Linked DNA regions of Homo sapiens. The protein of the gene in region 1 purifies or fractionates together with the protein of each later gene. This does not show direct contact. Each region holds a gene or a part of one and is shown on either strand. Other genes may lie near its edges.

What was found.
Region 2: the proteins of TMC6 (region 1) and PXK purify together in Homo sapiens (affinity purification with mass spectrometry; 2 studies listed by BioGRID and IntAct, with this or other methods). This does not show direct contact.

What each region holds. Positions count from the first base shown.
Region 1 is NC_000017.11:78,125,741-78,133,333, forward strand, and holds the start of TMC6 (transmembrane channel-like protein 6), read right to left. Parts: upstream 3,016-7,593; 5' UTR 2,872-3,015; exon of another isoform or gene 1,167-2,871; 5' UTR 1,093-1,166; coding exon 1,037-1,092; intron 909-1,036; coding exon 784-908; intron 627-783; coding exon 537-626; intron 145-536; coding exon 1-144. Other genes in the region: TMC8 (transmembrane channel-like protein 8), read left to right, coding at 5,849-5,997, 6,142-6,290, 6,619-6,768, 7,048-7,130. UniProt on the Homo sapiens protein: Acts as a regulatory protein involved in the regulation of numerous cellular processes. Together with its homolog TMC8/EVER2, forms a complex with CIB1 in lymphocytes and keratynocytes where TMC6 and TMC8 stabilize CIB1 and reciprocally.
Region 2 is NC_000003.12:58,328,142-58,335,895, forward strand, and holds the start of PXK (PX domain-containing protein kinase-like protein), read left to right. Parts: upstream 1-4,750; 5' UTR 4,751-4,847; coding exon 4,848-4,949; intron 4,950-5,164; exon of another isoform or gene 5,165-5,408; coding exon of another isoform or gene 5,409-5,450; intron 5,451-7,754. UniProt on the Homo sapiens protein: Binds to and modulates brain Na,K-ATPase subunits ATP1B1 and ATP1B3 and may thereby participate in the regulation of electrical excitability and synaptic transmission. May not display kinase activity.

The DNA of each region.
Region 1 (7,593 bases):
CCGTGGGGTCCAGCTCCAGGTCGTACAGGCGGAGGCTGGGCCAGGCGGAGCGGACAAAGTTCCCGAGCAGGGGCCGGCTGCTCCTGCACCGAAGCTGCACCGTGCGGTTGTAGTACTGGGAGATGATGGCACCTCGGCTGCGGCCTATGGAGGCAGCTGGGCAGGGCCGGGCCGGGCAGGGCCAGGCCTCCCTCCCCTCAGGATGGGCTCACCACAGGCCTCTGCGTCCCTCACCCCTTCCCAGGACCCAGGAAAATCCTTTCAACAAAGACTTCAGGCACCACTGCATTCCGAAAGCCTATTTTTACCCCGTGATGACTCTGGAGTCATTTTTGGAGCCCAGCGAGGGCCACATGGGGCTGTGCTGGGCCCCCAGGCAGCAGATGGGATGGGCTAGGAGCCCGCCCTGGGCCTGGCTCTGAGCTACGGGAGCAGCCACTACCCAGGGAGATGCCTGGCAGGAAGCCCAGCCCAGCCCCAGGGACTGGGGTCAACTCGGGGCCGGGGCCGAGGCCGAGGCTGAGGGTCCCACTCACCAATGGTGCGGCTGGGCATGCTGGCCAGGATGCGGAGTGTGGCCGTGCTCTGGGTGCCCTCGGGCCGCCAGAGTGTCTGCTGGCTACTTCCTACAAAGCAAGAAAGACTCACCAGGGGTCCTGGAGATGCCATTGGCCACAGTATCTCCCACCCCATCCCAGGCCTGCAGAGCTGGGAGGCCCGTCCTGAGGGGCTGGGGCACCCAAGTCTTGGTCCACACCACCCAGCATCCAGGCCTGAGCTCACCTGTCACCTCCCGCTCTCTCTGCTGCAGCTCCAGCCCCTCCTGGGCCGTGCACTGGCTCTGCTCCTGGATGAGCTGCTGGAAGGAGTCGTGCACTTCGCTTTCATCATAGGGGCTGGGGCCCTGGCTGCAGAGGGGGTTGGCGGGGGGGTCAGGCTCCAGCCACCTCTCTCCTTCCAGCAGCCCCTGCTCAGGTGACCTCTCCGTGGGGGGTGGAACATTCCAGCCTCCAGCCCCCAGCCCCAGAGCGCTTACCCCTGGTCCCCTGGGGTCTCAGGGACATCGAGGATGAAGGCCAGTGGCTGGGCCATGTCTCTGGCCAATGCCCGCTAGTCTGCAGACCTAGGGTAGCTCAGAGCCTGGGCGCCACCTCCGGAGCCCCCATCTGATGAGACAGGGGCACAGAGCCAGGGGTGGTCTTCAACGCCTGGCAGCTGTCCACACCACCCATTCCTGGGGGAACCACAGGAGGTGCCACTCACAGCCCAGACAGTCCCGCCCACCCCCCTATCACCCCAGGTACATAAATGGTGAGGCACCGAATAAGCCTCATGCCAGAATGGAATGGGGGGCCCCCTCCAGTGTCAGGGGAGGGGAGAGAGGAAGGAAGGGTGTGGGGTCTGCAGTTCCACATCTGTTTCCTCGATGTCGCCAGTCCCTGGGAAATGGGGAAGAGGTAGGGTGCCTGTAGACACAGCCCCTTTCAGGATCTCCATGCCCAGGGTTCTGGCACAGAGACACCTCCTTTTTGGAGAGAAAGGTCAGAGTAGGCTGTAGGCCTTCTCTGCGTCTGCCCTGTGACCTCAAAGAACTTCCTCTAGCAGGAAATTAGCTGCTGGAGCCCTCACCCCCAACCAGCCCCAGGCGGAAGCAGCACAGGGGGCTCCTCCCCCACACACAGAGGTCACTCCATGCCACCGCCGTCAGGGCGCCAAGGTCCTCATGTTCTCAGAAGACCCACTGCCCTGCATTCCATCATCCCAGGGCGGCCGGCTGGGGGTGGCCAGGACCTCAACAGGCCTCCTTTGTCCTGGCTCTGCCGTCACCCGGCACAACTGGAACCAGAGCAGCCTTGTCTGGGGCCCTGGGCTCGGGGCCCGTTCATCTGTGAGAGTGGAGCCAGGACTCAGCTCCCAGCCACCAGCGAGTCCTGCCGGCCTCTGCCCTGGACTCCTCCTGCGCTCACCCTCAGGAACTCAGGGCTCAAAGTCGGCCGGGTTGAAGGGCGCTTTCCTCGGACAGGCAAAGCCCGGGGGCGCCCCGACAGAGCAGCTCCTTGCAGGGGTGCCAGTCACAGGACCGGACGGCGCCCTCCCTCAGTGTCCTGGGTGCCATCTTCGGGCCCAGGCCCCACACCACCCCCTCCCTCCAGCAGGAGCAAAGACGTGGGAAAACCAGCCCAGAGCTGGGTCCGAGGCGGCCCCACCCAGCCTAACACGGGACAGCTGCCGAAAGAGGGGCTGAGGACGCCCCACCCAGTCCCTAGAGCTGGAATCCCTTCCTCCAGACAGGCCCTTCTAAGCTCAGGGAACCCGGGGACTCGGGCACCCAGCGCCCCAGCACTCCGCCCCGAGGCCCAGGCAAGTCCAGCGGAGTTTCCAGGCGCACCATTCCTGAGCTAGGTGGGGAGAGGCTGGGTGGCGCCCGTTTCCAGGAACCCCCACCCCAGCCGGCAGCGAGCTTCCCGGGAGCAGCCGCTACCCAGGGAGAACCGCAACCTGGCCCCAGAGCCCAGAGCGGCTGCAACTCTGGGGCCACCGAACCCGTCCAGCCGGCCTCCCTGTCCCCCGCCCCTTCCCATCCCGGCCACACCCCCTCCCCTCCCCTCCCCGTGCCCTGGCGCTCGGCTGGGGGACCTGGGTGGGGGCTGCGGATTTTGCTCCCCGCACTGTCCTCCCCGCCCCTGCCGCTCCCAGCTCTGTCCGAGCCGGAGGGTCAAGCCCTGGGAGCTCCAGGAGCACCCGGGGAGGGAACTCGGCTGCCAAATGGCCCCAGAGGCCGAAAGGAATTCAGGGGGGATTGCCGCTGTCCCCGCATAGGAGAAGCAGCTGGGGCTGGCGGGACCCGGGACCGGGATCGCGGCCGCTCACCTGGGAGGCGCCGGGGAGGAGGGGCCGCGCGCGCAGCCAGGGCTCACCTGTGCCCCGCAAGAGCCGCCGGGAACTGAGGTCTCGGCTCTCCTTGCCAAGGGAGTGGCAAAGGGCCCCAGGGGCGACTGGGCCAGTCGCAGGTCTGCCGGGGCCGGGGGAGTAGCCGCACCTCCCGGCCCACGTGGGCGGGGGGGGGGGGGGCGGGCCTCGGCTATCACGTGACCCGGCCCGGCCCGCGGCGCCCCCGCCCTCCTCCGGGCGCCCCGCGGCGACTATGCCTTCCTCCCCTGCCAACTTCCGACCCCTCCTCCTGAGGTCTGAGCTGGGCTGGATTCATTCCAGCCCCTGGTTGAAGTCCCCAATTTTTCTGACGCTCAGTTTCCCCAAGTTCCAAAAAGGGGCAATATTTCCAGACTCATCTGCTTCCCATGGTTAGGGATCGTCCAAGTAAGATGCCGCCGAAAGCCCCAGGGACACAGAGTATCTCACTCCAGATTGGGCAGCGCCCCCCCCCCCGCCGCCCCCGCAAGCCTCCTGCTGACTCTCCCCGACCCCGGCGGGGGGAGCCTGGTTATCTCCCACTCCTGACACCTGGGCGGGGTTCATTGTTTATCTAGCAAGAGTTCTGGCTCACTTCCTGTGTGCTGTGTGGAGAGGAGGGGATGAAAAGGAGGACACGCTGACACTTAGGTGACTGTCCCCAGGTGCTGTACCCGTTGCCCTGTTTTCTGTTATTCCCCATGAGCCAGGAAGGTATGCACTGATATTCCCATTTCACAGATGAGGAAACTGAGGCTGAGAGAAGTTAATCACCCTTTAGGGTGCCCCCAGCCAAAGCAGGAGACTTAGTGGTCCACCTGGGAACTCTATGGAGGAAACTGCCTTTGAGATTGTACCCCCCACCCCAAGCCCATTTGGAAGGGAGGGTCATTCCTGGCGGGGAGAAGCCATGAAGCAGGCAGGGTGAATGTGAGCTGGGGCCCAGGAGGGCAGGAGAGGGCACTGCTGCAGGGGAGAGCAGGCAAGCAAAAGCGAGGACCAGGCAGGGGTCAAGGCTGGGGCCTTTTGGAGCTGCCAGTGTGGTCCTCAGATGGCTACCCCAAGCTGGTTCTTGGCAAGTGGCACCCTGGCATGGAGACCCAGCCCCTGCCTCTCCTCCCACTGCTTCCCCCTCCCTGCATACCCACACTGAATTTGCATGAATGCCACCTCCTCTGGGGAGCCTCCCCAGATTGAACCCTGGTGGAGCACCTACCACTTCCTATTGACATGTACATCTGTGGTTCTGTGCCCCCTCCTACCCCAGCCCACTGTGTGCCCAGCACCAGCACATAGCTTGCGCCTGACACACAGAAAGGACTCTGGAAACCAGGAAGGAGGTGGGCAGAGAGGCAGAAAAGCTATGAACATTCAGACCTGAGATGACTGGGCCCTATAGCAGGTAGAGAGGGAGCAGAGAGGAAGGGCTGCGGGCTTCCCAGGGGCCCAAGGACAGAGAATTGGCAAAGATATGTCTTAAACATCTAGCCTGGGAGAGCATGAATGGAGCCAATTCCTGAGCACTTACTACCGGCCAGGTGCTAGGCCTGGGTCTTGGCACAACCATAACGCCAATGACAGGGGCTGGAAGTACAGCAGTAACACCAAGAGTATCTGGAAACCCAGCAGCCAGGTTCTGGGGAGCCCACCATCCTGTCATTATCACACCCTCCAGGGTGAGGCCGGCAGATAAAGAGTTTGGCCCCTGTGCCCCCACCGTTCCCATCCCCACCCATGTCAGGCTCCCAGCTCAGGCCTCGAGGTCAAGTCCTGCCTATCCAGGCTGGAAGGAGTTGAACAGAGAGGGCCTCAGCTGCAGGCTGGACATCCCTGGAGGCAGCCAGGCGGCAGACCCGGACCAGTGGACCCTAGGGCTGCAGGAGACCAGGCCCTGACTCCTGTGCAGAGGGGAAGGGTGGGCCACCCGCAGCCCAGCATGCACAGAGCTCCCTGGGAGGCCAAGTGGCCTACGCCTGTCACCTTCACCTCTGCATCTCAGGGGCCCACAGGAAGTGCCTGCTTGGCCTCAGTTTAAAGCAGAGGAAACCATGGGGTGAGAGGGGAGGAGGGAGGTAGTGGAGAGGGAAGCTGGGTTTCCTGTCATATGACCCCTCCTCTGGGCTCCCTCACCACCCTGCCTGGCTTGGCAGGAGTCGTCTGAGAAGGGGACTCCTCCAGGGACTTGGTCCCTAGGTCCCCAGGTGAGCTGGATGTCCAGTGGAGGGAGAATGCAGAGGGTGAGGGGCTGTGGGGGCCAGCTAGAGCCCTGCAAGGGTAGCAGTGGGTCCCTGCTCCTGTCCCCACGGCTGGGGCTGTAGCCACAGGTCCTCATCAGGGGCTCGCGGGGTACCTGGGACTGGAGGCTGGACCACAAGAAGGAAGACAGAAGGGGGTCCCCCGACATCCAGAGTCAGATGTGGCAGATGCCGAGTCCCAGGAACTGTGGGGTTTGGGACACAGGCTCTTCCGGAAGGGCAAACTGCCACGTGGAGAAGAGAGGGAATTGTCTCTCCTTGGGGTGACGGTGGGCCCAGGCACAGGTGGATGCGGGGTGCAGCAGGTCTTGGCTTTCTTTGCCTGTGCCGGTCCAGACTTTCTGTGCCCTTTGGATCTTTCACCCCATTTGACAGATGGGGAGACTGAGGCCGTGGCTGTGTGTCCCTCTGAGAGTTGGAGCGGGGCTGGGCCCGAATTCGACCGCAGCAGGATTCTCTCTCATTTCTGAGCCCCGGAGGTGGCAGAGCGGCAGACCCGGGCAAGTGAACCCTAGGGCTGCAGGAGCCCAGGCCCCGACGCCGGCGCAGAGGGGACGGAAGGGCCCGCCCCCAGCCCAGCGTGCACAGAGGCCATAGCCAAGGCCTTAAGGCTCATCCAACCGGGGACTCATATCCCCCCCACCGGCAGCCCGGCGCCCCAGCCTCTACCCGTGCCCGCCGAGATGCTGCTGCCGCGGTCGGTGTCATCGGAGCGGGCCCCTGGGGTGCCGGAGCCGGAGGAGCTGTGGGAGGCAGAGATGGAGCGGCTGCGCGGCTCTGGGACGCCCGTGCGCGGGCTGCCCTATGCCATGATGGACAAGCGCCTCATCTGGTGGGTGCCACGCGGGCGCCAGACGGTGCGTGGGGGGGGTGCTGCGAGGCTGCCCCGTCGGATGGTGTGGGAGCACCCCGTCTGCTTGGCCCGGGTGGGCAGGGCGGGTGACTCAGGGGCGCCCCTGTCACCACCCCCGTCCAGGCAGCTGCGGGAGCCCGCGGGGGTGCAGACCTTGCGCTGGCAGCGGTGGCAGCGCCGGCGGCAGACGGTGGAAAGGCGCCTGCGGGAGGCAGCGCAGCGGCTGGCCCGGGGCCTTGGGCTCTGGGAGGGGGCGCTCTACGAGATCGGGGGTAGGACCCGCGCGACCCGCACCTCCCCTTGCCCTCTCTGGAGCCCCACTGCCCAGATCGGAAAAAGGAGAGTGGCATCATCCCACCTGCCTTCACCCGGGTCCCCCGACCAATCGGCCCCTCCCCCCTCCCACCCCTTCCGCCCGCAGGCACCGCAAACCTCGGGCCCACGCAGCACCCCCAGGTGACTGTCAGCGGTACCTCCGGACTCGGGCGGGTGGGAGCCTGGCGGGCACCCCACGCCGTCCGGTGGGCCCGCCCTTGGACTCTCAGCGCGGCCCCAGCCCCGGCCCCGGCCTCCCTGACCCACCCTGCTCTCCCACTGCAGGCCTCTTCGGCACAGGAATTCGGTCCTACTTCACCTTCCTCCGCTTCCTGCTGCTACTCAACCTGCTGAGCCTGCTGCTCACCGCAAGCTTCGTGCTGCTGCCCCTGGTCTGGCTCCGCCCCCCTGACCCAGGCCCCACCCTGAACTTGAGTGAGTGTGAGGCCCACCAGGGGAAGTGCTCCGGTGCCCACCTGCGCCATGGGGGGGCTGGCCCAGGGCCCAGAGCGTGGCGACAACGCTGGGCGTGGTCCTGCCGTGCAGGCCCCGGGGCTCTCTCTCCCTGACCTCGCCTTGTGTGGGGCACGCCTTTGGCACATCCTCAGCCCCCTGCCCAGGCCTCCCCAGGGTTGGGGGTTATAGAGCAGTAGCCGCAGAGCCTCACCTATGCCTTGGGGATCCCTCTCTATTGACCCCCTTCCTCCTCAACAGCCCTCCAGTGCCCTGGTAGCCGCCAGTCCCCGCCTGGCGTTTTGAGGTTCCACAATCAACTTTGGCATGTTTTGACTGGCAGGGTGAGTGAGGTCTGTCCCGGCTATGGTCCAGAGTCTGGGAGACCCAGGGAACTGGCTTCAGGGGACACAAGTCTAAGAGGACCTCTGCTCCTCCAGGGACATTTCGGCTCCTCAGGGGATGGTCTTACCTAGACAGACTGGCCTGGCCGGTGGTGGGGTTAGAGAGAGGCTGAGGCCACTGTGCCCAACATAGACTCATGGACACATGCCCGTGGTCCTCAGAGCCCAGCTGGTGTAGGCGGTGCCAGGGACAAAGGGGGAAAAGTGCCCCGGCCTCTGGGAGAAGCACTTCCCCACCCTCATCCTGGGAAGCCATCGAGTGGTCACCAATGGGGTTCCTGGGTTCCAGTCGTGGCTCTATTTCTCAAAGCCCTGTGACCGTGGGCACGTTGCCGAACCTCTGTGGGCCCTTGTAAGACGGGACACTCCCTACCTGATGGGGGGATTGCACGGGGGCTAACAA
Region 2 (7,754 bases), on another chromosome or scaffold:
CGCTCTGTCGCTCAGGCTGGAGTGCAGTGGCACGATCTTGGCTCACTGCAACCTCCACCTCCCGGGTTCAAGCGATTCTCCTGCCTCAGCCTCCCGAGTAGCTGGGATTACAGGGGTGCATCACCACACCCGGCCAATTTTTGTACTTTTAGTGGAGATGGGGTTTTGCCATGTTGGCCAGGCTGGTCTTGAACTCCTGACCTTAAGTGATCCACCCATCTCAGCCTCCCAAAGTGCTGGCATTACAGGCATGAGCCACCGTGCCTGGCCTTTATTTTTTGTAGAGATGGGGTCTTGCTATGTTGCCCAGGCTGGTCTTGAACTCCTGGCCTCGAGCCGTCCACCTGCCTCAGCTTCCCAAAGTGCTGGGATTACAGGGGTGAGCCACTGAGCCCGGACTCATCGTTTTTCTCGTTCATGTAGGTAAGCAGCTTGATAGACGATGACATCTGTCCGGTTTGTTTTAACTCCCCTGTGCCTGACATAGTGTCTGGTATCTAGTATTCTGCAAGGAATTTGCTAAAAGATTGAGTGAAATGGGCCAGGTGCAGTGGCTCATGCCTGTAATCCCAGCACTTTGGGATGCCAAGATGGGCAAATCATGAGATCAGGAGTTCAAGACCAGCCTGAAACATGGTGAAACCTCGTCTCTACTAAAAATACAAAAATTAGCCAGGCATGGTGGCAGGTGCCTGTAATCCCAGCTACTCGGGAGACTGAGGCAGGAGAATTGCCTGAACCCGGGAGGTGGAGGTTGCAGTGAGCCGAGATTGTGCCACTGCACTCCAGCCTGAGCGACAGAGCAAGACTCCATTTTGGAAAAAAAAAAGATTGAGTGAAATGTTCTTTCTCCATATCCTGCTATCCAAATCTCACCCATCATTAAAGGCCCCTCTCAAACCCCAGTTCTTCCATGAACTGCCCCATAACCCAGTCTAGTGCCATGACTCTTTTCTTTCTTATCTTCTCATGGTACCCAGAGCCTCAATTTCAGGACTCAGTATAGGCTGTCTTGGAGTCACTGTTTCTGTGACGATCTTTCCTATCCTCCTTAAAAATTATTGGATGAAAAGGAGTCTGCTTCTTTTCCATTTTGTCCTCTACAGGACCTGCAATATTGAAAGTCTTCAAGTACCACTTACTGACTTTGAAAAAAAATCACTACTGTGATCATTTGTCAAAAACATACGCATGAAGATTGTCATCTGCCAATCACATAATCTTAAATGAAAAAAATCTAATTTGTAAAAGTATGCAAAATGCATTTTTCAGAGCATGTGAAATTTCTTGTAAGGTATGAACTATGGACAAGTTGGTTTCTCTTACAAAAGCATTTGGACTGTGTGGACAGATTACAGAGAAAATGGAGCTAAACCCCAGAGAAGCCTTCTTCCAGTTACTGTCATGACTTTATCTTATGGAAGCAGTTGTCAGAGCACTGGACTCCAGTTGTCTAACATTTTTCCCCCAATCATACAAGTTAAATACAGAAAAGCATACAGAAGAAATCATCATGATCCTGCTTCTTAGAGGCCCACCGTTCATATTTATTTATTTATTTTTGAGACGGAGTCTCGCTCTGTCACTGAGGCTGGAGTGCAGTGATACGATATCGGCTCACTGCAACCTCCACCTCTTGGGTTTAAATGATTCTCCTGCTTCAACTTCCCGAGTAGCTGGGATTACAGGTGTGTGCCACCATGTTCTGGCTAATTTTTCTCTAAAAGTAGAGACAGGTTTTCACCATGTTGTCCAGGCTGGTCTCAGACTTCTGACCTCAAGTGATGTGCCCGCCTCGGCCTCTCAAAGTGCTGGGATTACAGGTGTGAGCCTCTGTACTCAGCCCATATTTTGATATATTTTCTTCTGGTGTTTGTCCTGTAGATATGTTGGGATTATACGGATGCTAAATTGCTTTTTTCATTTACTATTATATCAAGAGCATTTCTCAAGATCATAAAATATTTTTTAATCATGTGACTTTTTATTTATTTATTTGTTTGTTTGTTTGTTGAGACAGGGTTTTGCTCTGTTGCCCAGGCTGGAATGCGGTGATGCAATCTTGGCTCACTGCAGCCTCCACCTTCCGGGTTCAAGTGATCCTCCCACCTCAGCCTCCTGAGTGCCTGGGACTATAGGCATGCACCACTTACCCTGGCCTGATTTTTAACATTGCAAAAAATTCATGATTGTACCAAGATTTGTCCAAAACCCAACTGTTAGTCATTTATCCTTGCATGCTATTTTTTTTTTTTTACTGATCTCTGATTATTTTCTTAGGATACCCTCCTAGACGCAGAATTACTTGGTCATAGGATAAGAACATTTTCAAAGCCCTTAATACATATTTGTTTTAGCTCCTAGTACTAGGTCTATTACATAGTAGGTACTTAGCAAATAATTGTTGAATGAATGTACGAATGCCCTCCAGAAAGGTGGCGCCAATTTATACTCCCACCTGCAGTAAGAGAAAAGAGCCTTGTCTTGGTCAGTCCACATCACAATAGGAGTAATGATTATAGCTGGATTTTGGTTTCTGTGACTCTGGCAGAGAAATAATCTATTTGCCTTAAAACAAAGAAATGAAAGTAAAAAGTTGAATCCTCCCTAAATGACATATGGTTTTGCTTTAATAGACTGCTGCTTTTAAACACACTGGCACAAAAGTGGAATGGAGGGAGAGTTCTGATTATTTTAGGGCTGAATCATGAAGGTCCAGGATTCCTTCTTCACATCTCGCTCTATTAGATCTTGGCCCCTGGGACCAATCTCATGGCTACTTGACTCAACGGGGCTGCCCACCAATCCCAATAAGCTTGAGATCTGGAGAAGGGACCCTTTATGTATGATGTGGGCCTTTCCTGTGATGTCAAATTTTGGTGGTGGTGGTGGGATTACCAAGGAACTTTGTTCCCTTATCTGAAGTGTAGAAATTTAGTGGAGGCAAATTTAAGAGTTAGGAACCTTCCATTCTGTCAACTGTAGGGGAAGGAGGAAACTAATATTGACTTTGTTTTGTTTTTTTTTTGTTTTTCCGGAGACGGTCTTGCTCTGTTACCCAGGCTGGAGTGAAGTGGCATGATCATGGCTCACTGCGGCTTCAACCTCCTGTGCTCAAAAAACTCTCCCACCTCAGCCTCCTGAGTAGTTGGGACCACAGGTGTGAGCCATCATGCCCAGGTATTTTTAAAATTTTTTTGTAGAGACGGGGTCTCACCATATTGCCCAGGCTAAACTCCTGGACTCAAGCCATCCACTCTCCTCAGCCTCCCAAAGTGCTGGAATTACAAAGGTGAGCCATCATGCCTGACCACGGTTTGAGGTGTTTTTGTTTGTCTGTTTTTTTGTTTGTTTTTTGAGACAGAGTCTCACTCTGTCACCCAGGCTGGAGTGTAGTGGTATGATCTTGGCTCACTGCAACCTCCCCCTCCCGGGTTCAAGCAATTCTCCTGCCTCAGCCTCCAGAGTAGCTGGGTCTACAGGCACGTGCCACCATGCCCAGCTAATTTTTATATTTTTAGTAGAGGGGGTTTTGCCATGTTGGCCAGGCTGGTCTCAAATTCCTGACCTCAGGTGATCCACCCACCTTGGCTTCCCAAAGTGCTGGGATTACAAGCGTGAGCGATCATGCCTGACCACCGTTTGAGTTTTTACTATGTGCCAAGCCCCTTCCCAGTCTACTGCATTCCTTGTATTAACCTTTTCATACAAATAATATTATCTCCACTTTGCAAATTGGGGAGTTGGGACTCAGAGAGGTTGGGTAACTTATTGAAGATCACACAGCTGGTAAATGCCAGAGCCATGGAGATGATGGTCCTCCAATTCTAAATTTAACTCTTCACTATCCTGGAATGCTGCCCTAGGAGAGGGCAGTGTGGGTGAAATTTCTAGGTGTATATGGAGATGGGGGGGATGAGGTGGTGCCAGGATTATGGCTTTGGGTTCAGGCAGACTGTGGGCAGATTTAGGGCTGAGAAGTTGATCCCAAGGTTCTCTGGCTTGGCTCTTGGTTTGAAGTTCTTCTAGTCCATATGGTGGGATCAAAAACTCCCAAGTCTAAGGGATGTGGTTGAGCCCGCAGTGGGGGCCAAGAGTAGAGGCTAGGGGTCTCTGGACCATTTTATAGGGTCTCCAGTTCTTAGAGCTTGGGTCTGAGGGTTCTGGGGCCCAAGACCTCCAATTATGGGGTCCAGCTCTTAGGTGTTCAGGCCTGAGGAGCCACGTTCAAGAGTCCCTGTGAAGTTTCAATAGGAAGGGCTTGTTTCAGAAAGTCTCTGGGTTTGCAGGGCTCAGACTGGGGGTCCCATCCTAAAGGCCCTTTTTCTGAGTTTTAGGGTCCTTGGGCCTGGGGGATGAGAGAGATCCAGTTCTGAGGGTTTCAAGAGGTACGGTCCCCGAAAAGCCCAGTTCTGAGAGGCCTGGTTTGGAAATCTCGCCCTGAAGATTCCTGGATCCCAGGGCTCAGGACCAGGCGTCTCTGGATCTGAGGATCCTGGTAGTGATGGCTTAGGGTGGTGTTCCCTGGTCCGAAGCCCGGAGCTAAGGGCACCGGGTCTGCGGTGCGGCTGCGAGGAGCAGGGAAGCGCAGGCCCATGGCAGCCGCGAGGCGGAGGAGCGGGCCAGCGGGCGGCAGTGCTGGCGGCCCCCACACGTTCTGCGCTGGGTCGGCGCTAGGACTCCGGGGCGGCGGCCGTGGGAAGGGCGGCGCTAGGACCCCGCGGGCCCGGCGGCGCGTGGGGCGGCGCGTGTTGACAGCGGCGGCGGTGGAACCGGGCGGGCGGCGGGAGTCGGCGCCTCGGGTTCCTACCTCGCGTCCCTAGGCGGCGGCGGCCGGGCGTCCCGGGATGGCCTTCATGGAGAAGCCGCCAGCCGGCAAGGTGCTGCTGGACGACACGGTGCCGCTGACAGCAGCCATCGAGGCGAGCCAGAGCCTGCAGTCCCACACGGTGCGCGGCCCAGCGGGCGGGCGGGCGGCGTGGGGCGGCCCCGGGCCGCGAGGGGGCTGCGGGCTGCCTGGCGCGGGCCGGGCAGGGTCGTCGGACGGAGACCGGGCCACAGGGTGGGCGGCCCTGGCCGAGAAGGCTGTGGCGCGCCGCTGGGTCTGGGTCAGGGCCCCTGGGGCCCAGGCGAACGCTGAGGCCCGGAGGGGCCAAGGATGGGGACCGCAGCTCCCGGCGCCGCGGGGTGGAAGGAGCTCGGCGGCGACCAGGAAAGCGACTCCGAGTTGGGGGGCGGGGGCGGGGGCTGCGGGATTCCCGGGCTCACCTTGGACTAGGGGAGCAGGAACGAGACCGCTCAGGACCATCCACTTCTGCCCGCCGCCAGCCTTTTCCTTTTTGAGGCCGTGTAATTTCCTCCTTGCAGCTGAGGGTCTGGGTGATGGGGATGAGGGTGTGCCGGGCCAAATGAAGTGTGACTCCAGAGCCTACTTGTTGGGACAGCAGAGTGTAAGTGGCTGGGGTCTGCAGCCCCGTTTCCAGGTCAGCCGCTTGGCCCTGGTCCCGGGAAGTGGTGGGGGCGGCAGTCGGGGCGCTGTTAAGCAGGTGTATGAATGTGCTTCTCTAACTTGCTCTTTAGTGGGCAGTGGTAGCATTCATTTGAGTTTAAAATCCACTCGAGTAGCATAAAGGAGTAATAGGTCCTCATAGTAAACATTGGCAGGGTTCATTTCTGCTACATATACGGTCTTTTATGGGGCTTTAAAACCGTGGTTGTTTTCATTTGCTTGTACCTTTTTTTTTTTTTGAAAGGCCCACTATGCATTATAATTTCCAAGCAATAAATCTAGGAACCAGCAAGAAACCTGGAGCTATCAGCTAGTGGGACTTTTTTGGAAAAGTAATGAGTGAGGAGAGAGATTCCTTCAATTGTGATGTTTTGTCAGTCCACCGAATCAGATTCAGACTCAGAGGCTTGTTTGTTTACCATTGCAGTGTGTTTGGGGGGTCATCATCTGGAGGCTAAAGCTCACAATAGCCTTCTGTTTCTCTTTTCGTTCAAGCTCTTCTGATGACTTCAAAGAGACCTTTTATTCTGTTGTATTAAAGTGAGACTTTTTTGAACCTCAGTTTCCTCTTCTGACAGCCGTGCTTTGTAGGGCTTGAATTGTTCAAAGCATTCACTTCCAGTTAAGAAAATTATTATCTTTTTAAAAAGGGCTATTTATTTCACGCTGTGTGTCTTTAATCCTATTCTGTAGACATGTGAGAAGGCACATACAGGACAGAATTTGTTAAACTTGCTATCATTTGTGCCTAAAGGGAGTATGGCATAAGGGTTGAAATTTAGGATAGGGAGTCAAGAGTAATTCAGCTATTAAATTTGATTTTTGACTTGACTATTGGCAAGTAAGTCTTATAACCTTTCAGGGAATAGTGTCGAGTCCTTTAGGTTTATTTTGTATTGAAAATAAAGAGATAGATGTTTCTAAATACTCACAAATTACTTTCCCTAGGAAGCATTCATGATTTCTACAGCCCCAGCCCATGTGCCTACCCACACCTTAATCTTGATTAGTTTGTCCTGTAATTACTTCTTTACTTTTTGTCTCCACCAGGCTACAAGAGGAGGGGCACTTCTTCCTCACTTTTGAGTCTCATTCCCTGGTTTTTGATAGGATTTCAAATGTGTTTATCAAATGACTAAATAATCCAACTTCAACCTTACTATGCCTCTTTTTCTGTTTATGTAAAATGGTAATTGTAAACATTGAAAAAATAACTTAGAGATCAGTGCTTTAGCTAGGTGGCGAAAGATGTAATAGGATTCTGTTTTTATTGTAAGGGTGTGTGTGTGTGTGTGTGTGTGTGTGTGTCTGTGTGTGTGTGTGTGTGTGTGTGTGTAGAGACAGCGTCTCACCATGTTGTCCAGGCTGGTGTGTGTGTGTGTGTGTGTGTGTGTGTGTGTGTGTGTGTGGAGACAGCGTCTCACCATGTTGTCCAGGCTGGTCTGGAACGCCTGGGCTCAGGCCGTTCTCCTGCCTCAGCCCCACAAAGTGCTGGTATACAGATGTGAGCCACCACACCTGGCCCTGCAGATCTTTTCTTTAAAAAATAAAATAATTTAGGGTAGAAAATGGCAGTTCTTGTAGGGATGACTGACCACAAAAGACAGTGACTCACAGGAGACCCATAGAGGCAGATGTGGTAGAGTAAAAAACTGTAGCATTGTCTTGCGTAATTTTTTGACTGTTCTGTGTTCTTGTCATTTTAGCTGTAAAGTTTGACTGAGAAATGTTGCATCAGCCCTGAAGTTTATTGAGAAAATCTTACGCTGATGCAAACTTTTTGGACTGTTAGTGTCTTATGAGTAAGTCTTTTTTAAAACAGGAACTGTTGGAAATTATTTTGGAAAGAAGTAGTTGTTAAGAGGGGTATGTAGAAGAGAAAGGCACTGTTTTTTCTTGGGGAGATTGAAGTTGGCTTTCCAGCTTGGTAGCTGAAGGGAGATGGTGTTCCAGAAGTCAGAGCTCTACTCTCGCTTTGAAATGCTGAATCTCTAGGAAGTTACTCCTTGGCTGTAGACAGAAACATACGGAGTTAGAGACAGACTTGGGGTTGGAAGAGGCAAGACCTTAATACAGGTCTGAGCTGATACTTGCTAGTCATGTGATATAGGCTGGGCAAGTCACTTAAACCTTTTTGAAGTTTAGTTTTGTCATCTGTAAATGGGAGTAATAAATGCCTGCCCTGCCTGCCTCCCAAGGTTGTTAGGAAGATCAAATGAAATCATCTTGATGAAGTATTTGTAAA